Linked DNA regions of Homo sapiens: region 1 is linked to region 2. The links come from fine-mapping of genetic effects on gene expression. A gene starts in region 2. The other region holds a variant in brackets. All regions are shown on one strand. Distances are between the middles of the regions.

Evidence for each region. PIP is the estimated chance that this variant, and not a neighbour inherited with it, causes the effect.
Region 1: its variant is fine-mapped to the expression of TMPO in stomach (GTEx, PIP 0.96).

What each region holds. Positions count from the first base shown.
Region 1 is chr12:98,566,203-98,581,134 of GRCh38, forward strand. No RefSeq gene overlaps it. Among named protein-coding and RNA genes, the nearest start is that of SLC25A3, 20 kb to the right of the region's middle. The variant C/T (reference allele first, on the strand shown) is at 3,398.
Region 2 is chr12:98,511,513-98,526,101 of GRCh38, forward strand. TMPO (thymopoietin) reads left to right here and starts at 4,078. Exons shown (of 9, transcript NM_001032283.3): 1 at 4,078-4,634. The coding sequence starts at 4,356. TMPO-AS1 (TMPO antisense RNA 1) reads right to left here and starts at 4,714. Exons shown (of 2, transcript NR_027157.1): 1 at 4,479-4,714; 2 at 1,461-4,385. RefSeq lists enhancers at 46-546, 3,698-3,777, 4,038-4,227 and silencers at 4,568-4,837, 6,891-6,950.

The DNA of each region.
Region 1 (14,932 bases), 55 kb after region 2:
GTGGTGTGTATCTGTAGCCCCAGCTACTCAGCAGGCTGAGGCCAAAGGATCCCTTGAGTCCAGGAGTTTGAGGCTGCAGTGTGCTATGATCACACCTGTGAATAGCTCTACTGCACTCCAGGCCTGGGCAATACAGTGAAACCCTGTCTCAAAAAAAAGTCAAAACAATTTTTTAAATAAAGTAGATATAACAGAAAAACATTATATATATGGTATTATAACTAAATGTTTTCTTATAGATTGTTTTGTTTTTATAAATAAGTCACTTTTGGGCTATTGTGCATTTTTACCATACCAAAGAGAATGTCTGATAGTAGTCCCAAAGTATTTGCTTATTATTGTCTGGTACTCCTTTATTAGTCAAGAATGTTGCTGACATTTTTACTTGGGTAATTTCTAACTTCCCAATATTCTACAAATAGAATTTTAGTTTTGTGTGCAGAGATCTTTCTACAGTATTTTCATACTATACTACCCTGTATTAGGTAGCTTCGAATTGAGGAAAAATTTGCAGATGAATTCGTAATATTCCTGATCTTTTTCTCATTACAAACTATGTAAATTTTACGGTAAAATTTTGAAGCAACCAAAAGTAACTATTTTTATACTGCAGTGTCAACTGCTGTAGTAAATTCTAATCCAGCTAAAACATGGACAGTGAGAACCCCAAACATTTCGCACAATAAGAATTAATAAGCAGGCTTTAGTTAGGCCGTTTACTTCAGGATTTAAAAAATAATACGTAGTCATATGGCCACAAACTGGTATTCCAGCCATTGAGTTTATGATTTTACAAAAAGAGTACACTAGATGTCGCTGTGAAACTCAGTGTAGTTTGTAATCGTTCTGCTATAGGAGAGCTCTGTGAAGTAGTCTGTCATTTGTTATTAATATGTGAGTTGCTGGCTGGGTGAGGTGGCTCGCGCCTGTAATCCCAGCACTTTAGGAGGCTGAGGTGGGCGGATCGCTTGAGCTCAAGAGTTGGAGATCAGCCTGGGCAAAAGCGTGAAACCATGTCTTAAAAAAAAAAAAAAAAAAAAAAAATTGTAGGCCGGGTGCAGTGGCTCACACCTGTAATCCCAGCACTTTGGGAGGCTGAGGCGGGTGGGATTGCCTGAGGTCAGGAGTTCGAGACCAGCCTGGCCAACATGGTGAAACCTTGTCTCTACCACAAGTACAAAAATTAGCTGGGTGTGGCGGCCGGCGCCTGTAATCTCAGCTACTCGGGAGACTGAGGGAGGAGAATCGCTTGAACACAGGAGGTGGAGGTTGCAGTGAGCTGAGATGGCGCCATTGCACTCCAGCCTGGGCGACAGAGTGACACTCCGTCTCAAAAAAACAAAACAAAACAAAAAGTGAATTGCTGTTAGTTTTGGTCTTCTTTTATTATTACTTTTTTATTTTTTTTTATTTTGAGACGGAGTCTTGCTCTGTCACCCAGGCGGAGACTGCAGTGGTGCGATCTCGGCTCACTGCAACCTCTGCCATCCAGGTTCAAGCGATTCTCCTGCTTCAGCCTCCTGAGTAGCTGGGATTACAGGCGTGAGCCATCTCGCCCAGCCGACAAAATATTTAAAAATTAGCCAGGTGTAGTGGCGTGTACCTGTAGTCCCAGCTACTCGGGAGACTGAGGCAGGAGGACCCCTTGAGGCCAGGAGGTCAAGGCTGCAGGGAGCTGTGATTATACCACTGCACTCCAGCCTGGGTGACAGAGTGAGACCCTGTCTCAAAAAAAGAAAAAGAAAAAAGAAACAATGAAAAGTCTCCCTTTCACCTCTGACCCCCACTCTCCAGTTCCCCACCCCATAGGCAACCAATGTTATTAGTTTTTGTGTGTGTATCTTTCCAGAGATATCACATGCACACACACACACACACACACACACACACACACACACACACACACACACAATTTTACTCTTCTCTTTCATAGGTGGTGTCATAATCTACCTACTATTTAATACCTTTAATGTTTCATTTAACAATGTTTGGAATCTTTTGACGTCAGTACAAAAGGTTTCATTTTATTTATTTATATTTATTAGCAGTTTCATAGTGTTCCATGTGTGGCTGTAGCATAATTTATTTAACCCTATTGATCGATTACTGCATTGTTTCCCATCTGTTGTAGTTATAAGTAATGCTACAATGAATCATCTTGTACCCATATCATTTTGCACATGTGCTGTAATTGTAAGAATAGTTCCCCAAAATGAAATAAATGGACCAAAGAGTCTATGAGTTTTTTCTTTTAAGAGATAGGGTCTTGGCCAGGCGTGGTGGCTCACATCTGTAATTCCAGCACTTTGGGAGGCCGAGGTGGGTGGATCGCTTGAGCCCAAGAGTTTGAGACCAGCCTGGGAAAAATGGCGAAAACTCGTCGCTATAAAAAAAAAAAATACAAAAATTAGCCGGGCATGGTTGCATGTACCTGTGCTCCCAGCTACTTTGGAGGCTGAGGTGGGAGGATCACTTCAGCCCAGGAGGCAGAGGCTGCAGTGAGCCATGATGGCGCCACTGTACTTCAGCCTGGGTGGCAGAGTGAGACTCTGTCTCAGAAAGAGAGGGAAAGAGAGAAAGAGATGAAGTCTCACTACGTTGCCCAGGTGATCTTCCCACCTCAGCCTCTGGAGTAGCTGGAACCCCAAGAAAACACCACCGTGGCTGGCTTGTGATTTTTGATAGACAGATGTTGTCTGCATAATATGCCTTGACAGCCAGGATGCTCTTACTGTCACTTTCTCTGCCCTCTCAACTTATAGGGGTGCGCACGTGTGTGTGTTGTTGTTATAAACAAAAATATCTATAACCATGTAAAGTTGTTGATGTAGTTTGGCTGTGTCCCCACCCAAATCTCATCTTGAATTGTAGCTCCCACAATTCCCACCTGTCGTGGGAGGGACCCAGTGGGAGGTAATTGAATCCTGGGGTTGGGTCTTTCCCATGCTGTTCTTGTAAGTTTCATGAGATCTAATGGTTTTATTTATTTATTTATTTATTTATTTATTTATTTATTTAGACAGAGTCTTGCTCTGTCACCCAGGCTAGAGTGCAATGGCGTGATCTTGGCTCACTGCAACCTCCACCTCCCCAGTTCAAGCAATTCTCCTGCCTCAGCCTCCCGAGTAGCTGGGACTACAGGCGCCCACCACCACGCCTGGCTAATTTTTGTATTTTTAGTACAGACAGAGTTTCACCATGTTGGCCGGGATGGTCTCAATCACTTGACCTCATGATCCGCCCACCTCAGCCTCCCAAAGTGCTGGGATTACAGGCGTGAGCCACCGTGCCTGGCGGAGATCTAATGGTTTTATAAGGGGGAGTTTCCTTGCACAAGTTCTCTTTTGTCTGCCACCATGTAAGACATGCCTTTCGCCTTCCACCATGATTGTGAGGC[C/T]TCCCCAGCCATGTGGAACTGTGAGTCCATTAAACCTCTTTTTCTTTATAAATTACCCAGCCTCAGGTATGTCTTTATCAGCATTGCGAAAACAGATTAATACAGTTGTTTAATCCTAAATGGGGCTGGAGCCAGCTGTATTATTTTAGATTATGAGGTTTTAAAATTCTGGTTCTTCTCATTTTTATCTGTTATCTATCCCTCCTTTTAGCTGCCAGCTGACTCGGTATCTAATAGCCTCTCCTTTGATCCCTATTAATTTTTATCTTCTAACCTTTTGGTGGTTCAAAATGCTGATCTCCAAGCTTACTAGGTTTCAGCCAAGAAAAGATCAAACTGTACTCACTAACATTATGATTTATTTCTCAAACTAGAGATCAGAATTCTACTTTTGTTTCAAATTTGTAATCTGAGTTATTCACAGTCTGTTTTTTTTTTTTTTGAGAGGGAGTCTTGCTCTGTCGCCCCAGCTGGAGTGCAGTGGCACAATCTCGGCTCACTGCAACCTCCGCCTCCTGGGTTCAAGCGATTCTCCTGCCTCAGCCTCCCGAGTAGCTGGGATTACAGGTGCCCACCAAAATGCCCGGCTAATTTTTGTATTTTAGTAGAGACGAGGTTTCACCATGTTGGTCAGGCTGGTCCCAACCTCCTGACCTCGTGATCCGCCTGCCTCAGCCTCCCAAAGTGCTGGGATTACAGTCGTGAGCCACTGTGCCCTGCCTATTCACAGTCTTTGTATGTGTTTTCTTCCCAGTGAGGCTTTAATTTTTCTTTTTTTTTTGAGATGGAGTTTCGCTGTTGTTGCCCAGGCTGGAGTGCAATAGCATGATCTTGGCTCACTGCAACCTCTGCCTCCCAGGTTCAAGCAATTCTCCTGCCTCAGCCTCCCGAGTAGCTGGGATTACAGGCATGCACCACCACGCCTGGCTAATTTTGTATTTTTAGTAGAGATGGGGTTTCTCCATGTTGAGGCTGGTCTCGAACTCCTGATCTCAGGTGATCCACCCGCCTCAGCCTCCCAAAGTGCTGGGATTACAGGCTTGAGCCACCGTGCCCAGCTGCTTTAATGTTGTTTTGTTAATTAACCATATAAATCTTGATGTAAGAGGACTTTAACAAAGCTGAACATAAAGAATTGAGTTTATGTATGCATTAAATCCATCAAGTGAGCATTCAAATGTTCTCTCTATAGTATGTTATTTCAGGGTCTAAATGTGTTGCTACAATAGATTGCTTTCAAACAGAACTCCTATATTGCTGTGCTGGTTAAGCTATTGTTTCTCCGCTCCAAACCCACTCCTCTATAGTTTCTGACAGTTGGGCTGAGACAATGCAAAAGACTATTATAGGCTCACCTGAACAGGGGGTAGTAAAGGAGATTGGACGGCAGGAGGAGGATGGGACTTGGCTGCTGCTCCTGTCCCACCTCTTCACATCACTTCTTCCTCCCTTCACTCTGGCAGCAACAGTTGGTTTGTACCCAGCTTTTTTTTTTTTTTTTTTTTAGACAGAGTCTAGCTCCATTGCCCGGGCTGGAGTGCAGTGGTGCGATCTTGGCTCACTGCAACCTCTGCTTCCCGGATTCAAGAGATTATCCTGCCTCAGCCTCCCGGGTAGCTGGGATTACAGGTGCCCGCCACCATGCCTGGCTAATTTTTGTATTTTTAGTAGGGATGGGGTTTCACTGTGTTGGCCAGGTTGGTCTCGAACTCCTGACCTCGTGATCTGCCCGCATTGGCCTCCTAAAGTGCTGGGATTAAAAGCATGAGCCACCAGGCCTGGCCTTTTTTTTTTTTTTTTTTTTTTTTTTTTTTTTTGAGACAGGGTCTCACTCTGTCACCCAGGTTGGAGTGCAGTGGCGCAATCTCAGCTCACCACACAGCCTCTGCCTCCCAGGTTCAAGGGATTCTCCTGCCTCAGCCACCAGAGTAGGTGGAATTATAGGCACATGACACCATGACTGACTAACTTTTTTTTTTTTTTTTTTGAGACGGAGTTTGGCTCTTGTTGCCCAGACTGGAGTGCAAGGGGTGCACGACCTCAGCTCACTGCAACCTCCACCTCCCAGGTTGAAGCGATTCTCCTGCCTCAACCTCCCAAGTAGCTGGGATTACAGGCATGTGCCACCATGCCCAGCTAATTTTGTATTTTTAATAGAGACGTGGTCATGTTCCCCAGGCTGGTCTCAAACTCCTGACCTCAGGTTATCTACCAGCCTCGGCCTCCCAAAATGCTGGGATTACAGGCATGAGCCACTGCACCCGGCCTATGCCATTAGATCTTAATAGAAGGGAGAAGGTTGAAATTGTGGTGTCTTGAAATAGCCCAGCTGGTAAACAACTAGAAGAGTTTTGTGATACAGCCAGTATGTTTGGGTTATTTTTACACTAGATAACCTGGAAAGTACTTTGATATGAGCAAAAATGTTAAAAGGATATTTTGGCTAGCATACCCAGTTTTTCTAGCATTTCCAGAATCAGCCTCATTGAGTTCCTTTGGAGACAAGCTCTAGCCAGGCAGTGCCTTCTCAGAGGTTTGGGTCCTAGTTCCACAGGGAACTGCCCGCTGCTAAATTCTAACTCCAACCTCTTCCCTTTGTGCCTCCACCACTAGGGGTGGTAGCTCTTTCTGCAGTTATTATGTGTGCAGACTCAGTCTTCTCTCGGTGCCTTTAAACTTCTCCAGTGCCCATTTAATCTATTCCCATAGGCAACACTGTTAAAATAATGGTGTGGTTTATTTTTTTTCCTGATAGAATGATTATAGTCACAGTTTTATCAAGGAAAAGAGCATAAAATGCTCTACTTAACTATATACAGTGTATTTTTAATTAATACCTTGTTCGGAAAAATTATAATTGTGTTTTTCCCATTGTCTCACTCAATAACACAACAACAATAAACACAGCAGACTTTTGTGACCAAATGTGGAGGATTTCTCCCCACCAAGAAACAAGCAATCAATTCTGCAGCAGACACCAGCTGAATGTCCTCTAATTCAATTCCAACATCATTTACCTGGAGATAGTGCCAGATCCCACAGGTTGAGGGCTCAGTCTCCAAACCTGCCCCCCACTTCAGACACCCTAGCAAGTCTGGGCCTCTGGAACTTCTGACCAACTGGCTTCAAGTTGGGGTTCCCAGAATTCCCTCTTTGGGTTCAATTAATTTGCATGTGTGGCTCACAGAACTCAAGGAAACATTTATTTACATTTACTGGTTTATCATAAAGGATATTACAAATAATACAGATGATGAGCTGCATAGGGCAAGTTATGGGGGAGGGGGCGTAGTGCTTCCATGCTCTCCCCAAGCACACCACTCTCCAGGAAACTCCACATGTTCCCCTGCCCTCTTGGGACTTTTTATGCGGACTTCATTGGATAGGCATGATTGAAGCATGGACAACCGTGTGATTGGACAAAAGGTGTATGCTCTAAACCCAGAAAGATTATTATTATTATTTTTTGAGACAGGCTTGTACTTCCATTGCCCAGGCTGGAGTGCAGTGGCGCCATCTTGGCTCACTGCAACCTCCACCTCCCAGGTTCAAGCAATTATCCTGCTTCAGCTTGCCGAGTAGCTGGGATTACAGGTGCACACCACTATACCCGGCTAATTTTTGTATTTTTTGTAGAGACAGGGTTTTACCATGTTGACCAGACTGGTCTGGAACTCCAGAGCTCAAGTGATCCACCCGCCTTGGCCTCCCAAAGTGTTGGTCCAGCAAGATTCTTCTTGGCCACTCTGTGCAACATTCCTTCCTCCAAGTTATGGGACAAGATTCTCTCTAGAATGATGAGATTAGAGTCCTGCCATGGGCAGGCCAAGGGAGGGCCGGAGAAGATCAGAGAGATTCTCTTTATTGTAACAGGGGCTATGGGAGTTATGAGCCAGGAACCATAGATCAAAACCTATATATATGTCACGCGCCTCAGATTTTATAGGTTAGTTCTGGCACAGTTTTAGTAAAAGTAACCACATTTGCTAAAATTGCTTCTTTTTTTTTTTTTTTCTGAGACGAATTCTCACTGTGTCACCCAGGCTTGAAGTGCAGTGGCATGATCTCGGCTCACTGCAGCCTCCACCTCCTGCGTTCAAGCTATTCTCCTGCCTCAGCCTCCCGAGTAGCTGGGATTACAGGCAAGGGCCACCACACCCAGCTAATTTTTGTTTTGTTTTTGAAACGGAATTTCGCTCTTATTACCCAGGCTGGAGTGCAATGGCATGATCTCAGCTTACTGCAACCTCCGCCTCCTGGGTTCAAACAATTTGCCTGCCTCAGCCTCCTGAGCAGCTGGGATTACAGGCGTGCATGCCACCATGCCCAGTTAATTTTTGTATTTTTACTAGAGACGGGTTTCACCGTGTTGGCCAGGCTGGTCTCAAACTTCTGACCTCCCAAAGTGCTGGGGTTACAGGCATGAGCCATCGCACCTGGCCTAAAATTGCTTCTTAACCATTTAGAAAATCTTGAAAACAAGGCATCTTGGAAAAGGGTCCCCTGAAAAACAATTGTTGTAAACTAAGCTGTTGGCTTCTGCAGGCTTCTAATACAATATAAATACTAAGGTAAACTGTAGGACAGATAAGTCTATTTTAGGCTATGACTCTGTAACATGGTGAGTACAAAGAATGTAACTGCTCTCTAGTGACCCTTGAACTTAGAACTGGAACCATATCTCAAATAGGTTTCTCTAAGGTAGGCTTGGCAGCATTAAATCATTCAGAAAATATTTATAGAACATTTTGGATACACATGGCTGGCACCCTAGGGGCAAGAGTCCACCGATGAGCAAACCAGACTCTTGTAGAACTTAGGATCTTATGACTAATGTAAAGGAACTAAATGCTTTCTCAGCCTGAGTAAATGGGACCAATTCAACCCTGCAGTTCAGAATGCCTGAAATGAATAGATTCAATAAGGTGAGTTATTCCTGAAGAAAGGATTAAGGAGTGCCCAGGTTCCTAAATAACATCGCCCTATAAAATGTACCAGGGCTTCTTGGAGAAATGACTGATGCTAGGGTTAGAGCATGAAAAGCACAGATAAGCGAGAAATATCTTGCATCAGAAAGTAAGGAAGGCCAGAAGCCATGGCTCATACCTGTAATCCCAGCACTTTGGGAGGCTGAGGCAGTAGGATCCCTTGAGCCCAGGAGTTTGAGACCAGCCTGGGCAACATAGCGAGACTCTTGTTTCTATAAAAATTTTTAAAAATTAAAATTAAAAATAAATATATAAATATTTTCTAAAAGAAAGTAAAGATATGCTCAAAAAGTAATGGGACATGTTAAAAGTACACAGGAGCCAGCTGGCAGGGGCTCCCAAATAGGATAATTTGAACATCAAAACAAAAGTAGGCTGGGTGCGGTGACTCACACCTGTAGTCCAAACAGTTTGGGAGGCTGAGGAGAGCAGATCACTTGAACCCAGAAGTTCAAGACTAGCCTGGGCAACATGGTGAAACCCTGTCTCTACAAAAAATACAAAAATAAGCTAGGTGTTGTGGCATGCGCCTGTAGTCCCAGCTATTTGGGAGGCTGTGATGAGAGGTTTGCTTGAGCCCATAAGTTTGAGGCTGCAGTGAGCTATGATTCCGCCAGTCTGCAGCACTGCACTCCAGCCCAGGTAAGCCCGTGTCAAAAAAAAAAAAAAAAAAAAGCCAGCGAAACACCTAACTAGTAATGTGTTATAATCTAGATTCCAGAGTCCATATCTATACTGATAACACATGAATGAATGAATAAAAAGGAAAGCTCATTCTTTTTGTTTTGTTTTGTTTTGAGACAGAGTCTTGCTCTGTCACCCAGGCTGGAGTGCAGTGGTGTGATCTTGGCTTGCTGCAACCTCTACCTCCCAAGTTAAAGTGATCCTCCCCACCTCAGCCTCCTGAGTAGCTGGGACTACAGGTGTGTGCCACCATGCCTGGATAATTTTTGTATATTTACTAGAGATAGGGTTTTGCCATTTTGGCCAGGCTGGTCTCGAACTCCTGGCCTTAAGTTATCTGCCTGCCTTGGCCTCCCAAAGTGCTGGAATTATAGGCGTGAGCTACCGTGCCCAGTGGAAGCTCATACTTATAGTAGAATGGTCAGCTAAAAAAAAATATAGAAGAAACAAAGATTTATTTTTTGTTGTTGTTGTTTTTGTTTTTGAGAAAAAGTCTCACTCTGTTGCCCAGGCTGGAGTGCAGTGGCACTACCTCGGCTCACTGCAACCTCTGCCTCCCAAATTCAAGTGATTCTCCTGCCTCAGCTTCCCGAGTAGTTGGGATTACAGGTGCCCACCACCACGGTGTGGTGCCTGGCTAATTTTTGCATATTTAGTAGAGATGGGGTTTCACCATGTTGGCCAGGCTGGTCTCAAACTCCTGACCTCAGGTGATCCACTTTAGTCTCCCAAAGTGCTGAGATTACAGGCATAAGCCATGCATCTGGCCTGAAGCAAAGATTTAGAAAATCATGTAATCATGGTAATTGTTGATTCAGGCAAGAATAATCAATAGATGTGAAAATTACTGGGTATGTGATTTTTGAAAAACAGGATATTTACATAGTCTCAAAAGTATCTCTTTATAAATTACTGGTTAATTACAAAGGGAAAAATAATAACTTTACAGTGAAGAAATTTGATAGACACCACCTTTAACTAAGTGATCAAAGTTAACCTCACCCTAGGAATGGTATAAATCACCAAGTGTTTCCTGAGGGGTGCACTGAGCAGAATACATCACTCACACAGTATCCCTTCTCTAAATGCACAACCTGAATGGAATCACAAAACTTCAGACAACTCTCAACTAAAGGAAATTTTACATAAATCGCTGGCCTGTACTCCTAAAAAATGTCAGGCCATTCTAAGTGGCATGAGATGGTATCTCACTGTGGTTTTGATTTGCATTTCTCTAATGACCAGTGATGATGAGCTTTTTTTCATATGTTTGTTGGCCGCATAAATGTCTTCTTTTGGGAAGTGTCTGTTCATATCCTTCACCCACTTTTTCATGGGGTTGTTTATTTTTTTCTTGTAAATTTGTTTAAGTTCCTTGTAGATTCTGGCGATCATTAAAAAGTTGGGAAACAACAGATGCTGGAGAGGATGTGGAGAAATAGGAACGCTTTTACACTGTTGGTGGGACTGTAAACTAGTTCAACCATTGTGGAAGACAGTGTGGCGATTCCTCAAGGATCTAGAACCAGAAATACTGTTTGACCCAGCAATCGCATTACTGGGCATATACCCAAAGGATTATAAATCATTCTATTATAAAGACACATGCACACATATGTTTATTGCAGCACTATTCACAATAGCAATGACTTGGAACCAACCCAAATGCCCATCAATGATAGACTGGATAAAGAAAATGTGGCACATATGCACCATGGAATACTATGCAGCCATAAAAAAGGATGAGTTCATGTCCTTTGCAGAGACATGGATGAAGCTGGAAACTATCATTCTCAGCAAACTAACACAGGAACAGAAAACCAAACACCGCATGTTCTCACTCATAAGGAGGAGTTGGATGATGAGAACACATGGACACAGGGAGGGGAACATCACACACTGGGGCCTGTTAGGGAAAGGGGGGCTAGGGGAGGGATAACATTAGGAGAAATACCTAATGTAGACGACAGCATGATGGGTGCAGCAAAACACCATGGCACGTATATACCTATGTAACAAACCTGCACGTTCTGCACATGTATCCCAGAACTTAAAGTATAAAAAAAAAATTATCTAGGGGTGACAGTGAGCAAAAATAAATAAATAAATAAGGCCAAGTGCCATAGCTCACGCCTGTAATCCTAGCACTTTGGGAGGCCCATGCTGGTGGGTCACTTTGAGCTCAGGAGTTTGAGACCAGCCTGGCCAACATGGTGAAACTTCATCTCCGCTAAAAATACAAAAATTAGCCAGGCATGGTGGCTCATACCTGTAATCCCAGCTACTTGGGAGGCTGAGATTGTAGGACTGCTTGAGCCAGGGAAACAGAGGTGGCAGTGAGCTGAGATGGTGCTGCCACCGCAGTCCAGTTTTAGCAAAGGGAGCTAAAGAGGCATGTGTACTAAATGCAATGTGTCATCCACGATTAGATACGGACCAGAAAAAAAGGCATTGTTGTAAATAAAGGACATTGTTGGGACAATTAGCAAATTTTGAATGTAGATTATAGGTTAGATTATTAGTATTAAATTTCCTGATTTTGATAATTATACTCTGCTTATGTAAGAGAATATCCTTGTCCCTAAGAAATGCACTCTGAGGCCGGGTGCGGTGGCTCACACCTGTAATCCCGGAACTTTGGGAGGCTGAGGCGGACAGATCACTTGAGGCCAGGAGTTTGAGATCAGCCTGACCAACATGGCAAAACCCCATCTCTACTAAAAATACAAAAACTAGCCAGGTGTGGTGGCACATGCCTATAGTCCCAGCTACTCAGGAGGCTGAGGCACGAGAATCACTTGAACCTCGGAGGTGGGGGTTGCAGTGAGCTGGGATCGTGCCACTGCACTCTAAGCCGGAGTGTCAGAGCAAGACTCTCCCCATCCCCCTCCCCCACAAAAAAAAGAAATGTACCTGAAGTATTTAGGGGCTAAACAGTATACTCTGCAGTTTACTCTCAAATGGTTCAAATTATATGGGTAGGTGGATGGGTGGAGGGATAATAGGTAAGTAGGTAGATAGATAAATAGATAGCCAGACATAGAGATAGATGGGAAAAAAAACTATTAAAGCAGTTGTGACGAAATATTAAAAACTGGTAAATCTGGATGAAGTATATATGAGTTATTTGTACTATTCTTACATCTTTTCTGTAAGTTTGAAATTATTTGAAAATTTAAAAACAATTATAATTAGAGGAGGAAGCACAGGGCTGTATTTTATACTGTAGTTTCTGAATGAACTCTGAATGATTACATCCAGATACTTACTACGGCCACCAGGAAAAAACATGCTAGCCTTTGGACTAGGTGTGGCTGTGATAGACATGATCCTGCTAACTACTGCTAGAAAAAATGGCTTTAACTCAACTAATCCAAAACCAAAATCATATTTTATGGATGACTGTTGCATTTCACTACCTTATAACTAAAAGTTGGATATAATAGTTTTGCTCATTGTTTCCTGGTGAACCTCATTGTTACCTTCTAAGAATGTCCACCAGGAAGCTACACATAGCTTATGTTATCTAGATTCAAAATCCATTCCAATGTATCTATTGAGTGTGGAGGAGACTGTTAGTACTATCTGAAAATCCATGTGCTCCTCCATATTTTCTCAGTCCTGTGTACCTGGGTGGTGTCACAGGATTAATTCTTGCCAAAAGAACATAAATGGAAGTGATGTGTCACTTTTACTCTGAGGCAGTTGAGTGCAGATGTGCCTTCTTGTTCCACCTCTTCCCCTTTAGCTGAACCTGTAGAGGTCATGTAGAGGTGGCAGAACCATAAAATGAAAGCAGCTTGAATCCCTGAGTCACCGCTTCAGGGAGAGTTCTCTGGAAAACCACCTGATCAGCACCAAACCTTACAGGAGCAAGAAATGTTATTGCATTATTTATTGTGTTATATTGTTAAGATTTTAGGTTAATTCGTTCATTCAAGATAGCCATATCGACTTACCATTCCTCTTTCTCTTCCCTCTTATTCCTTTTTCTTGTCTTTAAAAAACATTATTATTACTATTATTATAATTATTTTCTTCTCTTCAGGCAGGGCACGGCCAGTGAGACCTGTAAGGTTGGTACCAAGGAGGCACCCAGCAGGGTTAGGAAGTTGGTTACATACGGGGGTAATAAGTAAGTAAACGTATTGAAGATAATGAAAGCCAGGTTTATTATCTCTGTCAGAGAAGGGGGTTACAAATGTGGAAAGAAAAATAGACTGGAATGAACCCTGTGGTGTTGTGATTTGAAGATTTGAAATTGGAGATATCAGTGTGAACTCATGTGGTTTTTTGTTTTGTTTTGTTTTTTTCTTAGAGTCTCACTCTGTCACTCAGGCTGGAGTGCAATGGCATGATCTCTGCTCACTGCAACATCTGCCTCCAGGGTTCAAGCGATTCTGCTGTCTCAGCCTCCCGAGAAGCTGGGATTACAGGCGTGACCACCACACCCAGCTAATTTTTCTATTCTTGGTAGAGTCAGGGTTTCACCATGTTGGCCAGGCTGGTCTCGAGCTCCTGACCTCAAGCAATCCCCCTGCCTCGGGCTCCCAAAGTGTTGGGATTACAGACGTGAGCCACTGTGCCCATTCAGAACTCATGGTTTTTAAAAGAAAAGTTAGATGATAGACATAGATAGATAGATAGATAGATAGATAGATAGATGATAGGATAAAGATGGATAGAGATAAATGGATGACAGACAAAGATAGATATAGATTGATGGATGATAGAGATAGATCAGATAGATGGAGATGAATGATAGAGATGGATAGAGATAAGTGGATGGCAGAGATATAGATCAATGGATGACAGAGATAGATGATAGATAGATAGATAGATAGATAGATAGATAGATAGATAGATAGGCATGATAGACAGAGATGCATAGACAGAAATAAATGGATGAGGCTGGGCGTGGTTGCTCACACCTGTAATCCCAGCACATTGAGAGGCCGAGGTGGGCGGATCACCTGAGGTCAGGAGTTAGAGACCAGCCTGGCCAACATGGTGAAACCTCGTCTTTACTAAAATACAAAAATCTAGCCGGGCGTAGTGGCAGGTGCCTGTAATCCTAGCTACTTGGAATGCTGGGGCAAGAGAATCGCTTGAACCCAGGAGGTGGAGGTTGCAGTGAGCCGAGATTGTGCCACATTGCACTCCAGCCTGGGCGACAAGAGCAAGACTCCGTCTCAAAAGAAAAAAAAAAAAAAAGAAATTGGCCAGGCATGGTGGCTTACGCCTCTAATCTCAGCACTTTGGGAGGCCAAGGCAGGCAGATCACCTGAGGTCAGGAGTTTGAGACCAGCCTGACCAACATGGAGAAACCCTGTCTCTACTAAAATACAAAATTAGCTGGGCATGTTGGCACATGCCTATAATCCCAGCTACTGGGGAGGCTGAGGCTGGAGAATCGCTTGAACCGGGGAGGCAGAGGTTGCGGTGAGCGGAGATTGTGCCATTGCCCTCCAGTCTAGGGAACAAGAGCAAAACTTCGTCTCAAAAAAAAAACAAAAAAAACAAAAAAAATGGATGACAGAGATAGATGATAGATATAGAGAGATGGATGGTAGATAGAGATGATAGAGAAATAGATGACAGATAGATAGATAGATAGATAGATAGATAGATAGATAGATAGATAGATAGATATAGATGTGTACGTTATACAGTTGGCCCTCCATGTCCATGGGTTCTGAATCCATGGGCTCAGCCAGCTACAGATCAAACATATTAGGAATAAAAAATAACAATACAACAATAAAAAAAACAAATAAAAAATACAGTATAACAACTATTTACATAGCATTTACATCATAGTGCGTATTATAAGTGATCTAGAGATGATTAAAATATACCAGAG
Region 2 (14,589 bases):
GCGCCACCACGCCAGGCTAATTTTGTATTTTTAGTAGAGACGGGGTTTCTCCACATGGTCTCAAATTCCCGACCTCAGGTGATCTGCCTGCCTCAGCCTCCCAAAGTGCTGGGATTACAGGCGTGAGCCACCGGGCCCACCTCCAGATGATTTTTTTTTAAGTTATGGGAAAGTTTTCTGATTTAAAAAAAAAAAAAATTGCATCAGGCCAGACGCAGTGGCTCATGCCTGTAATCCCAGCAATTTGGGAGGCTGAGGCGGGTGGATTGCCTGAGGTCAGGAGTTTGAGACCAGCCTGGTCAACATGGTGAAACTCTTGTCTCTACTATATTACAAAAAAATTAGCTGGGCGTGGCAGCAGGCGCCTGTAATCCCAGCTACTTGGGAGGCTGAGGCAGAAGAATTGCTTGAACCTGGGAGGCAGAGGTTACAGTGGGCTGAGATTGTGCTACTGCACTCCAGGCTCGGCAACAGAGGGAGACTCCATTTCCAAAAAAAAAAAAAAAAAAATTTGCATCCACCAGGCACAGTGGCTCATGCCTGTAATCCCAGAACTTTGGGAGGCTGAGGCGGGTGGATCACCTGAGGTCAGGAGTTCAAGACCAGCCTGGTCAACATGGTGAAACCCAGTCTCTACTAAAATACAAACAAATTAGATGAGTGTATTAGCAGGCGCCTGTAGTCCCAGCTACTCTGGAGGCTGGGGCAAGGAGAATTGCTTGAACCTGGGAGGCGGAGGTTGCAGTGAGCCGAGACTACGTCACTGCACTCCAGCCTAGTCTCTGTTGGACATTCTGACCACAGTCAGAATATTAAGACTTCTAAAAACTCTCATTTCCCTGTGAAATTTTCTGAATTAAAATTACTTTTATCTACCAATGACCTGGAACACCCCGAGCCCCCCAACCCCCACTTTTATTAATAGTTGTCCCGCCTTTCTGGAAGGGACCAATCTACATCTTACACATATTGATTTTAGAGACAGGGTCTCACTCTGTCACCCAGGCTGGAATGCAGTGACAGGATTATGGCTCACTGCAGCCTCAACCTCCCAGGCTCAAGTGATCCTCCCACCTCAGTCTCCCTAGTAGCTAGAACTACAGGTGGGCACCATGGCTAAATTTTGTATTTTTTTGTAGAGAGGGGGTTTTACTGTTTTGCCCAGGCTAGTCTTGAACTCCTAAGCTCAAGGGATCCGCCTGTCTCAGCCTCCCAAAGTGTTGGGATTACAGGCGTGAGCCACAGTGCTCAGCCTTTGTGTTTTTTGTGTCACATTGATCAAATATTTTAAAAATTATCTTTTATGTTGAAACAAGTATTAAGGAGATGATGGAAAGAGTCAATTCCTTGAGAAGGGTGAGAGCCAGAGTACAAGTGGTGGAATTTCCTTCTGACAGGACACATCTTTCACTGAAAAGAAAAATGCAAGAGAAAATGAATGCAAATTGGAAAGTCTGACGTTGAAGCATTCCTCATAGGTGGTTTTTATTTTTTGAAGTTGAGGCAAGGTCACCAGCTAAAAATGAGAGGTAGGGAAAAAGGATGTGAAATTTGAGGAGATGTGAACGTATGAATGGTTAACCCAGAGACTGGAATAGCATTGCCAGCCAGTGTTGAGTGCTCCTGAGAGGACTGAGGTCATGAATTAAAACCAGTTAGCTTGTTATATGACTGACTTTTCTCCAGCAGCTTTTGCTGTTTGGATGTAAGCAATGAGAAAGTTCAGCTGGAGCATGGTTTAGTCCAAGCAAGGCTGAGATTCTTTCAAGCAAAAAAGGAGACATTGAGATCAGAGAGTTGAAAATGTTTGTAAAAGAGTGATGAAAAGGACTGATCAGGGAATTTAAGTCAGGTGAGTTGCAAAATTATTACATGATGGCAGAAGCAGAAGAGTTGAGTTTTTTTAAGTGTTGGGGTTAATAGCGTGGAGGTCTTAATTAGGTAAGTGAGAGTACCATAAATTAGCTGGGAAAAAAAGGCTAGTGATTGACAATTGGGAAGCTTGAAACTGAGATTTCAACTGATGACAAGGTTCAGAATCTGACTGATACCGAAGTGGTTAAGACGCAAGAGAGGAACAAATTGTTGGAGATGAAGAGGTCAGAGGTCTAAGAGGCCAAGTGTTGGTGTTGCATGGGTCACCTACAAGCATGCTGAATTCAGATAGAATGTAGACAAGAGGGATGGTGAGGAAAACCTACGGCAAGCAGCTCTATAATTTCTGGAAAGTGACCAGGAGGCTCGTGGATGATGGCAGGAAGGAGAGTAGAAAGTGATTTAGCCAGAAGATATGAACTTCAAATATTTTTGAAGCAGAAAAGAGCAGAAATGGTTTGGAAGTAGCAATCAGGACCAAAGAGACCACCCAAACTCAATAGCCCAACCTCTTAGCCTTAGGGTACGCAGAATCTGAAAAGTGTAATCTCAATTTTGGAGCTCTACAGCAGTAAATCTGCAAGTAACCACCTGTAGCTAATGTCCAGGGATTAAAAAAAAGATAATGAAAATGTTTTTGCCCAGGAAACATTAATTTCAGGCGTATCTAGAATGCAGTTCTTGCATTATACGTACTGGGTTACCAGTCATTGCAAAGTCATGGTCCTTTGCCTCTCAGCTCAGTTCCCCTTCTGAAGATAAAAACATTTGCCTATGTGTCCAGGGAAGCTGTGAGGACAAAAAACCAAGCAACTTTTACAAGGGATCATAAAAACCTACCTAACAACTTGCTAATTAAAACCTGATTTTTAATTTGCATTATTGAGCTTAATACCATTGCTTAAATGTATGTGAATACTGAGATTTTTATAAAGGAATTAGTTACCTCTAGGAAAATAATTATCACTAAAAGAAATAATATCGCAATTTGAATAAAAGTAAGTCGCTTAAATCATAGGAAACATTTTTAGTGAAGGCGTTTGTTTTAAATGTATTCTAACCTAGCAATGTAGAAAGCAGGCAAACATTTAAAAAAAATTTAACCAGTTTCTAAAACATAGTTTGGAGCTCAGATTCTGGGGAAATGATTAACACACCCTACATCCAAGGTCTCCTTTCCTTTCTAGAAAGAAAGCATCTTTAAACATACATATTCATCAGAAATACAAATATTTGTCATCAGTGATACTAATTTCCAGGCAAACATTTTAATTGCAGTCAATGTATTAGATTCTACCAGGTTTTAATTTGGATCGGTAATACGGGTTTGATTAGGGTTCTAGGCCTAATTATAGGTCACTAGTCTTCCTTTAGGATTATGCACCATCTGTTATTTTAAATTGACCATTGAGGGGGTTCCCAAGGGTTCTCCTTCGTTTTGTTATCAAACGTTAGGTTTAGGATTCTTGCGGGTGGTGGGATCCAAAGCCAGAGACGGTTTCAACAAAAATGCAAGCGCGAATTTGTCTTGCGTCTGAACGCACTGTTCAAATTAAACAATTTAGACATGCCCCAACTATGACACTAAGAAGTGAATGGTATAGTACACTTTTGTCACAAATTCAAGGGTAATTTAAGTGCCCGATTGTAGAGGTCTGGCTTCCCCTGGGTTTCTGGAACAAAAGAAGCGTTCGCGAGGAGAGGGGTAACTCCCCGCCCTCCCCCTCCCAAAGTAAATCAAATCAAGGAATATGAGTGCCTGCAGACAAGCCTCGCTTCTTTTCTTCCCCTTCAGGGCTAGCGTTTGGGGAAGGCAAGGCTGCGGCTACTCTTGGAGCTTCAGTGTCCCGGGAGGAAGAAAGGCCCAGCCAAGGGTCCTCACACTGGCGTGGAATTCGGCGCGTTCGTAGGCGATCGACCCCAGAGACGAAAGCTGCTTCTCAAGCTGGGGGAGGGAGAGGAAACGGCGCACAAAAGCAGTACGACCTGTCCCTTATCGGCGTCTAAGGGGAAGGGTGGAGAAAACGAAAACAGAAGCGGGCCGGGAGCCTCGGCTCCCGCCCCAGCGCCTTTTAAACTGCGTTTCTACCTCCTCTCGCTCAGCGCGGCGGCTAATGGAACCCGCGCGAGCCGTCTCGCCAATCACCGCCGCGCTTCCTCCCGTCGCCCGCCAATGGCGGCGCGCGTTCTTGGGGCGTGGGCGAAGCAGGCTGCTCGCCTCCTGCCTGTAGTGTGTGGGCTGGGGTTGGTGCGAGCTTCCAGCTTGGCCGCAGTTGGTTCGTAGTTCGGCTCTGGGGTCTTTTGTGTCCGGGTCTGGCTTGGCTTTGTGTCCGCGAGTTTTTGTTCCGCTCCGCAGCGCTCTTCCCGGGCAGGAGCCGTGAGGCTCGGAGGCGGCAGCGCGGTCCCCGGCCAGGAGCAAGCGCGCCGGCGTGAGCGGCGGCGGCAAAGGCTGTGGGGAGGGGGCTTCGCAGATCCCCGAGATGCCGGAGTTCCTGGAAGACCCCTCGGTCCTGACAAAAGACAAGTTGAAGAGTGAGTTGGTCGCCAACAATGTGACGCTGCCGGCCGGGGAGCAGCGCAAAGACGTGTACGTCCAGCTCTACCTGCAGCACCTCACGGCTCGCAACCGGCCGCCGCTCCCCGCCGGCACCAACAGCAAGGGGCCCCCGGACTTCTCCAGTGACGAAGAGCGCGAGCCCACCCCGGTCCTCGGCTCTGGGGCCGCCGCCGCGGGCCGGAGCCGAGCAGCCGTCGGCAGGGTAAGGACGCGGGGCCGGGGCTACAAAGGCGGGCGTTTGGCGGTTGCCGCGCGCGCTCGCCGCCGTTTGCAGCCCCTCCCTCCCGGGCGCCCCCTCGGGCCTCCCAGGTGCGGGGCTGTCCCTGCGCCCCCTCGCGTCGCCCCTTCCCCGCGGGGCTGCAGGCGCCGGAGCGGAGAGGCCAGAAGTTGGGGCCGCGGGGTTCGCGTTCTTTGACGTGTGGGTCTGGGAGGTGTGGAGTTGCGTTGGCGGCGGTTGTTTTGCACGCAGTCGACGCCGCTTCCCTGGACCACCAGCCGCCTGCAGCGGGCGTTTAGACGGGGACTTCCGTGCCCTTTCGAAAGCTCTGGAGGGGTGGCCCCAAAATGCTATAGGTTAAGTTCGAGCGTTTTCCCGCTTTATTAACTGAAATGACTCGCAGCAGAGTCTCAGAGCGCTCCCTGGAGGGCAACTGATGACACTCTAATTTCTAACCAAAATTTGAAATGAGGAAATTCCCGCCTTTTTATACTTTTGCGTGTGGAGGGCTTTTTGAACCGTTTATGTTTTCTAGTTTGTTTTAATTTTTCCCAGCAACAGGCCATCTTTTGGCGGAACAGGTTCATGCCGAATTAAAAGGAGCATTTTAAACTATATTTTTAGGCGCCTATTATAATTTTTTAGTTTTTATTTATTTATTTTTTTAGATGGAGTGTCGCACTTGTTGCCCAGGCTGGAGTGCAATGGCGAGATCTCGGCTCACCGCAACCTCCACCTCCCGGGTTCAAGCGATTCTCCTGCCTCAGCCTCCCGAGTAGCTGGGATTACAGGCATGCGCCGCCACGCCCGGCTGATTTGTGTATTTTTTAGTAGAGACGGGGTTTCTCCAAGTTGGTCAGGCTGGTCTCGAACTCCTGACCTCAGGTGGTCCTCCCGCCTCGGCCTCACAAAGTGCTGGGATAACAGGCGTGAGCCACCGGGCCCGGCCCTGCAAACAAATATTTGAAAATTGCAGTTTGGATTGCGTTTTCCCCACATATTGGTAAATTTTGCTTGAGGAAACGAAAGACTTAGGATTCAGGAAAAATTTATTTCATGACATTCTGGTGCATCAGTATTGCAATTTGGAATGTCTGATCCTGGTTAAATCTCAAATCGGCTCCAGCAAAGCATGTTTTGTTTCAGAATAGTTTGCTTTTTTACCTGTGGATTTTAATATGCTTTTTGTGGGTTTGCTTATGCCTGCCGAGTTACCAGGCTTCAAATCGTAATAGGATGAAGCTAAAACTAGTAATTGGTGTAACATAAAATGCCTTGTAAGAGACAGTGAATGTGGTGTTTGGAGTTGTTGGGAATGATCACTAGTTTAAACCGAAATTATTCCTTCCTTCAAATTTTACTTTAGTTTTTAAGGAACCTGTCTAATGTGTTTTCCCGGCTACTCAGGCAGAAATGAAAGACAAATGTAATAGACACATGTAAATTTAATTGAAAATCTTATTCTCGGCTTCAGAGAAGTTGAAAGTTTTACCAAACGTCTTCAGTCCGGTGTCTGGCACATAGTAGTGCCAAATATTTGTACAATAAATAAAAGACCAATCACACCTTATTGTTTAAACATCTTGTTTTGCGGAAAGCTTCTTTAATTTCTTAATAAACAAATTTACTTTTGAAATAAAAGCGTACCCGCTTACCCGTTATGTTTCCCTGCTCTGAAAAAGAAGGTAGTATTTAAACTCTTTAAGTAGAGTTGGTTGAGGCCGGGCGCGGTGGCTCACGCCTGTAAGCCCCGCACTTTGGGAGGCCCAGGCGGGTGGATCACCTGAGGTCAGGAGTTCTAGACCAGCCTGGCCCATATGGTGAAACCCCGTTTCTACTAAAGAAAAAAAATACAAAAATTAGCCGTGCCTGGTGGCGGCGGCCGAGGCAGGAGAATCGCTTGAACCCGGGAGGCGGAGGTTGCAGTGAGCCGAGATCGCGCCATCGCACTCCAGCCTGGGGGACAAGAGCGAGACTTCGTCTCAAAAAAAAAAAAAAAAAAAAGTTGTTTGAAAATAATATTTAAATCAGCACACTTTATAAAAAACCTAATTTTCTATAGAACCCTTCATTGGTCCTCTGTGCAAAAGTATTAAACCGTGAAGTTTTTGGTTGTATGTTTATAATAGAATTACTGGTTATTATTTTTAGGCGGGATCTCGCTTTGTTGCCCAGGCCGGAGTGCAGGGATGTGATCATAGCTTACTGCAGCCTCAAACTCTTTGGCTCACGAGAGCCTCCTGCCTCAGCTTCCCTGAGTAGCAAGGGCAACGGGGCATGCACCGCTACACCCGGCTAATTTTCTAATCTTTTTTTTTTTTTTTTTTTTTTTTGGTACACAGGCTTTCTGTGTTGTCCAGGCTGGTCTAGAACTCTTGGCCTCAAGCAATCCTGCCTCAGCCTTGGTTCCTATTTATTTTGAGGATGATTTCTTTTACACAGAAACAACCATCTCAGTTTTAATGTTTTCCTATCAGCCACTTGGTAAAAGAGAGTTTATGTCCCCATCTACCTTGTGTTCTTTTGGGGGGTAAGAAGACCTAAATGTAAAAATTTTTTAATTAAGATTATCCAGCAATTTTGAGTTCCTACCAAGTGTTCTTAACTACTGGGTTTAAAACTTTGGGGATTTAAAAATGAATTGTGTTTATTTACTTGTCTGTCCAACTCATATGTTAATTGAAGTTGGTTAGCATCATGTAAATAAGTTTTGAGTAAAATGAAGGGTTTTTTTTTTTTGAGACGAGTCTTGCTCTGTCGCCCAGTCTGGGGTGCGGTGGCGCGATCTTGGCTCACTGCAAGCTCTGCCTCGTGGGTTCATGCCATTTTCCTGCCTCCGCCTCCCGAGTAGCTGGGACTACAGGCGCCCGCCACCACCCCCCAGCTAATTTTTTGTATTTTTAGTAGAGATGGGGTTTCACCGTGTTAGCCAGGATGGCCTCGATCTCCTGACCTCGTGATCCTCCCGTCTCGGCTTCTCAAAGTGCTGGGATTACAGGCGTGAGCCACCGCGCCCAGCCAAAATGAAGTAATTTTTGTTGTTGTTATTTTGTTTTGTTTGTTTTGTTCTGAGACGGAGTCTCCATTGCCCAGGTTGGAGTGCAATGGCCCGATTTCATCTCTGCCTCCTGGGTTCAAATGATTCTCCTGCCTCGACCTCCCGAGTAGCTGGGATTACAGGCGTATACTACTATACCCGGCTAATTTTTGTATTTTTAGTAGAGAAGGGGTTTCGCCATGTTGGCCAGGCTGGTCTGGAACACCTGACCTCAGGTGATCTGTCCCCCTGGGCTTTCCAAAGTGCTGGGAATGCAAGGATGAGCGACGGCACCCAGCCCAGAAGTCATGTTTTTTAGAGTACCTAGTAGGTCTATTGGCATGGTAATTAAGCTCTTTACGTTTCATTTAATTATTTCATCCATATAAAGAAAACTTACTTCATAATTACAGGTTTAAATGTCTTCTACCTGGAGTATTTAAAACTCAAGAGGTGTTTACCCTTGACTGAGCTTAATAGCCATGCCAACAACTTGAAGAAAAATATTGGTAGTCAGCGTCATTTTCTGTTTTAAAGTACGTTAAGTACAAGTGAGTTATAATTAGGAGTCTGTTCGATGTTTTTATCAGCCATAGGAAAAAATAATTTTAAGTTTACAGGAAAAGAAATTTATAATAATTTATGTGTAAAATTATTCATGTCAATTCCTCTTATATGTACTATATTTTACGTTTTGGTCATTTTTAGCCCCATATAAAAATAATACCAGGTCATATTTCTTTTTTTTTCTTTCTTTCTTTTTTTCTTTTTCTTTTTTTGAGATGGAGTCTTGCTCTGTCACGCAGCCTAGAGTGCAGTGGCGTGATGTCAGCTCACTGCAACCTCTGCCTCCCGGGTTCAAGCGATTCTCCTGCCTCAGCCTCCCAAGTAGCTGGGATTACAGGTGCCCACCACTGCGCCCGGCTAATTTTTGTATTTTTAGTGGAGACGGGGTTTCACCATCTTGGCCAGGCTGGTCTCAAACTCCTGACCTCAGTTGATCCACCCGCCTGAGCCTCCCAAAGTGCTGGGATTACAGGCATGAGCCACCGCGCCCGGCCAACCATATTTTTCCCTTCCTTCCTTCCTTCCTTCCTTCCTTCCTTCCTTCTGTGTGTGTGAGAGATGGAGTCTCACTCTGTCACCCAGGCTGGAGTGCAGTGGCATGATCTCGGCTCACTGCAACCTCTGCCTCCCAAATTCAAGCAATTCTCCTACCTCAGCCTCCTGAGTAGCTGGTATTACTTACAGGCACACACCACTACTCCTGGTTAATTTTTGTATTTTTAGTAGAGACAAGGTTTCACCATGTTGGTCAGGCTGGTCTCGAACTCCTGACCTCGTGATCCACCTGCCTCGGCCTCCCAAAGTGCTGGAATTACAGGAGTGAGCCACCTCACCCGGCCAATACCAGGTCTTATTTCTTTTTTCCTTTTTTTTTTTGAAACGGAGTCTCAGTCTGTCATCCCAGCTGGAGTGCAGTGGTGCAATCTCGGCTCCCTGCAAGCTCTGCCTAGCTGAGACTACAGGTGCCCGCCACCACGCCTGGCTAATTTTATGTATTTTTAGTAAAGACTGTTAGCCAGGATGGTCTCTATCTCCTGATCTGGTGATCTGCCCGCCTCGGCCTCCCAGAGTTCTGGAATTACAGGCATGAGCCACCGCTCCCGGCCTCCAGGTCATATTTCTTAAAGAATATTTATAATCTTCTGCATAATGGAGTGGTAAAAAGGAATAAAAGAATATTTATTTATATTATAGGAGAAAGCCAAATTATGTTTGAGAGTTGCAGATAAGGGAGATTTTTAACATTTTAAGACAAATCAAGCATTAATGTGGATTTGGCCAAGATTAACTATTTGCATGCATATACCTTCTATTTAATCATGGGTTTATGAGGAATTTTTTTTTTTTTTTTTTTTTTTTTGAGACGGAGTGTCGCTCTGTCACCCAGGCTGGACTGCAGTGGCGTGATCTCCACTCACTGCAAGCTCTGCCTCCTGGGTTCACGCCATTCTCCTGCCTCAGCCTCCCGATTAGCTGGGGCTACGTGGTGGCACCTGCCACCACCCCCGGCTAATTTTTTTGTATTTTTAGTAGAGACGGAGTTTCACTGTGTTAGCCAGGATGGTCTGGATCTCCTGATCTTCTGATCCTCCCGCCTCAGCCTCCCAGAGTGCTGGGATTACAGACGTGAGCCACCGTGCCCAGCCTATGGGGAACATTTTTAATTAAATAAGAAATTGTTTCATTTCAGCTTCTACCATAGTCTCTTGGATTCACTTGGTATAATGTGACAAAACTTTGCATGTTAAAAGTTTTGTTTTTATTTTGTTTTCTTATTTCTAAGCTTTTTATTTTATGTATCTTGCTACCAATATTTTTAGGTGTTGAAACTACCTAGATTGTGGACACAAAAATAAACATTTACAGAGTTGGCAGTCTGCCTTTTTGTTTTAAGAGGCAGAGCCTGAAGGTGTAGCTATTTGGATCTAGTGGAGCATAATATTCTTGAATGATCTGTTCTGGTGAATTATGAGTGTGTGTTTGAGAAGGAGTCTTGCGCTGTCATCCAGGCTGGAGTGCAGTGGCGCGATCTCGGCTCACTGCAACCTCCACCTCCCGGGTTCAAGTGATTCTCCTGCCTCAGCCTCCTGAGGAGCTGGGATTACAAGCGTGCACCACCATGCCCAGCTAATTTTTTTATTTTTAGTAGAGACAGTTTCACCATGTTGGTCAGGCCGGTCTCAAACTCCTTCCTGACTTTGTGATCTGCCCCCCTTAGCCTCCTAAAGTACTGGGATTACAGGCGTGAGCCACCACGCCTGTCTGTGTGTTTGTTTGTTTTTTTAAGAGATAGGGTCTCGCTCTGTCCCTCAGACTGTAGTGCAGTGGTATGATCATAGCTCACTGCAGCCTCAAACTCCTGGGCTCAAGCCTCTGGAATAGCTGGGACTACAGGTGTGTGCCACCATGCCTAGCTGATTTTTAAAATTTTTATAGAGATAGTCTCACTATGTTGACCAGGCTGGTCTTGAATTCCTGGCCTCAAGGGATCCTCCTGCTTAGGCCTCCCAAAGCGTTGGGATTGTAGGTGTGAGCTGCTGCTCCTGGCCAAATTATGAATTCTCAATAGGAAATATTTGAAGACCTGGAAAAGAACATAAAAGCATGCTACCAATAGGAAATGTTAATTAAATCACAAATTTACCACCACTGTATAATAAGGTGTTAAGTTTACAGACTTGTGAATAATAGAGTTATAGATTCAAATTCCAGGTCTGCCACTTATTCATATGACACTGAACAGTGTCTTAATCTAAGATCCTCTATTTTCACCTGAAATAGAGGAATAACCTAATAGCTACTTAATCAGATTGAGGAGTACATGCCATTGCATATGTGAAGTGTCTAGTGCTTAGTAATTAATAGCCATTAAATGATTTCTGAATTTTTGTCTTTAATGTCAGGGCAATATAGTGCAATGTTACTAAAATATAATTTTGGGAAACGAATAAGGTAGATAAGTGAAAGTGACATGTATATCATAGCATGCAGATTTCCTGAGTTAGTGAAGAGCATGCTTGAACCTCAGTTTTCTGAGTTGTCAGATGGGGATATTAGCATTTTATTCCATAGATTTTTAGGACTCTGTAAGTTAATGCAAAGACACTTGGAACACAACTCAGTACGTAATACATAATAAGTGCCCACTAGAATATATTGTTATGGTTCAACATCTTTATACTAGAGGTAGAGATTAAAGGAATTAGAGAAGCTCATCGGTGATATCATAGAGCTGTTGGGTTTTGAAGTTGAAAAATACGTTAGAGATCATCGGGTAGCATAGTAGGTACTATTTTTGAGTGAAACTCTTAAGTGATCTACTTAAAGGAACAAAGCTTTCTGGAGGCAGAATTTAATGCAACTGATGCTTCCTTTTTCCTGACTGAAACTGCTAATCATGTACAGCACACTGTCTCCTAATTTTTTATCCTTATTAAATCTGAGATTTATAAAATGACATCACTTTTCTGGAACTTTTTTCCTGACAGATTAAAAACCACATGTTTGACTGTGTGCAGTGGCTCACACCTGTAATCCCAGCACTTTGGGAGGCCGAGGCAGGTGGATCACCTGAGGTCAGGAATTCGAGACCAGCCTGGCCAACATGGTGAAATCCTGTCTCTTCTAAAAATACAAAAATTAGTTAGTCGGGTATGGTGTTGCGCGCTTGTAATTTCAGCTGCTTGGGAGGCTGAGGCAGGAGAATCTCTTGAACCTGGGAGATGGAGGGCATGCCACTGCACTCTAGCCTGGGCAACAGAGTGAGACTCCATCTCAAAAAAAAAAAAATCACGTTTTTGGTTTTAATTTATCTGACTTACCTTATGTAGATTTGTTGGTCACTTATTTAAGATATCTTTGTTCAGCTGATGTTTTTCATTATGTTTGAAGGAAATATAATTGATTTTCTTTCTTTCTTTTTTTTCTTTAGGCGAAGTCTGGCCTTATCACCCAGGCTGGAGTGCAGTGGCGCAATCTTGGCTCGCTGCAATCTCCGCCTCCCCAATTCAAGTGATTCTCCAGCCTCAGCCTGCCGAGTAGCTAGGACTATAGGCGTGTGCCATCACACCTGGCTAATTTTTGTATTTTTAGTAGAGATGGGGTTTCACCGTGTTGGCCAGGCTGGTCTCAAACTCCTGACCTCAACGGGAGATCCTCCCTCCTCGGCCTCCCAAAGTGCTAGAATTACAGACATGAGCCACTGCCGAGAATTGGTTTTTACTTAGATTTGATAGGCCTGTTATTTCTAATAAGAAATGGATTTTCAAAAATAAATTACTTTTTCCTTCCCCAGATTTGACAAAACATTTATCAGGGGGCTATTCCTGTATCAGTCTTTTTAGAAATGTTTAGATGCTTGGAATAAGAATATGAGGATGATAGTGCGTCTGCTTTCTGTTGCTTGCCTCAATGCTGCATCCAGATCACCTGGGCTACACAATTACAAACAGATTATCTGGCCCAAGGTGAAGAATCAGAAATGGGTAAGACCTTTCCAAATAGAGGTAACAAGAGTTAAGATTTTGGGCTGGGTGCTGTGGCTCACGCCTGTAATCCCAGCACTTTGGAAGGCTGAGGTGGGCAAATCACGAGCTCAGGAGTTTGAGACTAGCCTGGCCAAAATGGTGAAACCCTGTCTCTACTGAAAGTACAAAAATTAGCTGGGCGTGGTGGCATGCACCTGTAGTCCCAGATACTCAGGAGGCTGAGGCAGGAGAGTTGCTTGAACCTGGGAGGCAGAAGGTTGCAGCAAGGCAAGATGGCGCTACTGCACTCCAGCCTGGGCGAGAGAGTTAAGAGACTCCACCTTGAAAAAGAAAAAAAAAAAAGAGTTAAGATTTTTTTTGAGACAGAGTCTTGCTCTATCGCCCAGGCTGGAGGGCAGTGGCATGATGTCGACTCACTGCAACCTCCGCCTCCCAGATTCAAGCAATTCTCCTGCCTCAGCTTCCCAGGTAGCTGGGATTACAGGCATGTGCCACCACACCCGGCTAATTTTTGCATTTTTAAAAGAGACGGGGTTTCACCGTGTTGGCCATGCTGGTCTCGAACTCCTGACTTCAAGTGATCCACCCACCTTGGTCTCCCAAAGTGCTGGGATTACAGGCATGAGCCACTGCACCTGGCCCAAAGAGATTTCTTGAAAACCTCTCAGGCGGGTTTGAAAAGTTGGAATTTCCTGGATGTTTTATTGATAGTAAATTTGAACATTCTCGTGGTAGTGGGGATTATGTACAAATAATTTGAACCTGATTGATTGTTTTTCCATGTTTTATTTTTATTTTAAGCATTATTTAGTTTTTCTGTACTACCTGACTGCACTTTTTGGAAAATTTGAGTAAGTCAGTAACATAGGATTAAGTTTGTTTGATTAAATCTTTTCTTGAAAGAAATAAGTCTTAGAACTCTTAGACCCTAGGCAACTATTTGGATATTATGGTGTGGGTTGCTTCCAGATATGAGCCTGACAGTTCTAGGTCAGTGCAATGTATGTGAATTAAAGCCTGCTAAAAGTACTCTCACTGTAACTCTCCACAGCCGTCTATTTAAGATTTCTCGTAAGTTGACATAATTGTTCTTATGAGCAGCTATTTTTTTGGTGAAGGTTTTTTGGCTTCTGATTATAGAATGATTAGCCATTAGCAGCTTTTTAAAAAGAATTTCTCATATCTTGCTTTATTTGAAGTATTTCAGGCCAGGTTCCATGGCTCACGCCCGTAATCCTAGGACTTTGGGAGGCTCAGGCGGGCATAACATTTGGGGTCAGGAGTTCAAGACCAGCCTGGCCAACATGCTGAAACCCCGTCTCTACTAAAAATACAAAAATTAGCCGGGCGTGGTGGTGCACACCTGTAATCCCAGCTACTCAGGAGGCTGAGGCAGGAGAATCACTTGGACCTTGGATGCAGAGGTTGCAGTGAGCCAAGATTGCGCCACTGCACTCCAGCCTGGATAAGAGTGAGGCACAGTCTCAAAAAAAAAAAAAAAAAAGATTTGATTTGAGCCTGACAATTCTAGGTCAGAACATTTTTATTGTTAAAAACAGTAATTCCAGTACATAGTCAAATCATGACTGATTTTTCCCCCTAATATTATTGGAAAGTGAGCATTCCATACAACTTGATAATTTTAGCCTTTTTCGTAAAATTTACTTTGATGTTGCCATTGTTTAATTAGCCATTTTTTTGTTCAGTACTCTGATGTTTTTTCTGTGATCACTGAGGCATTTGTCAGGCTGTTTGCCACAGCCTTAAAAGGTATCCGTACTTTTGCTTCCTTTTTATTTGTTCAACCTTGGAAATTTATAGTTTTTCCAGTAAATACTGCCTTTGTAGA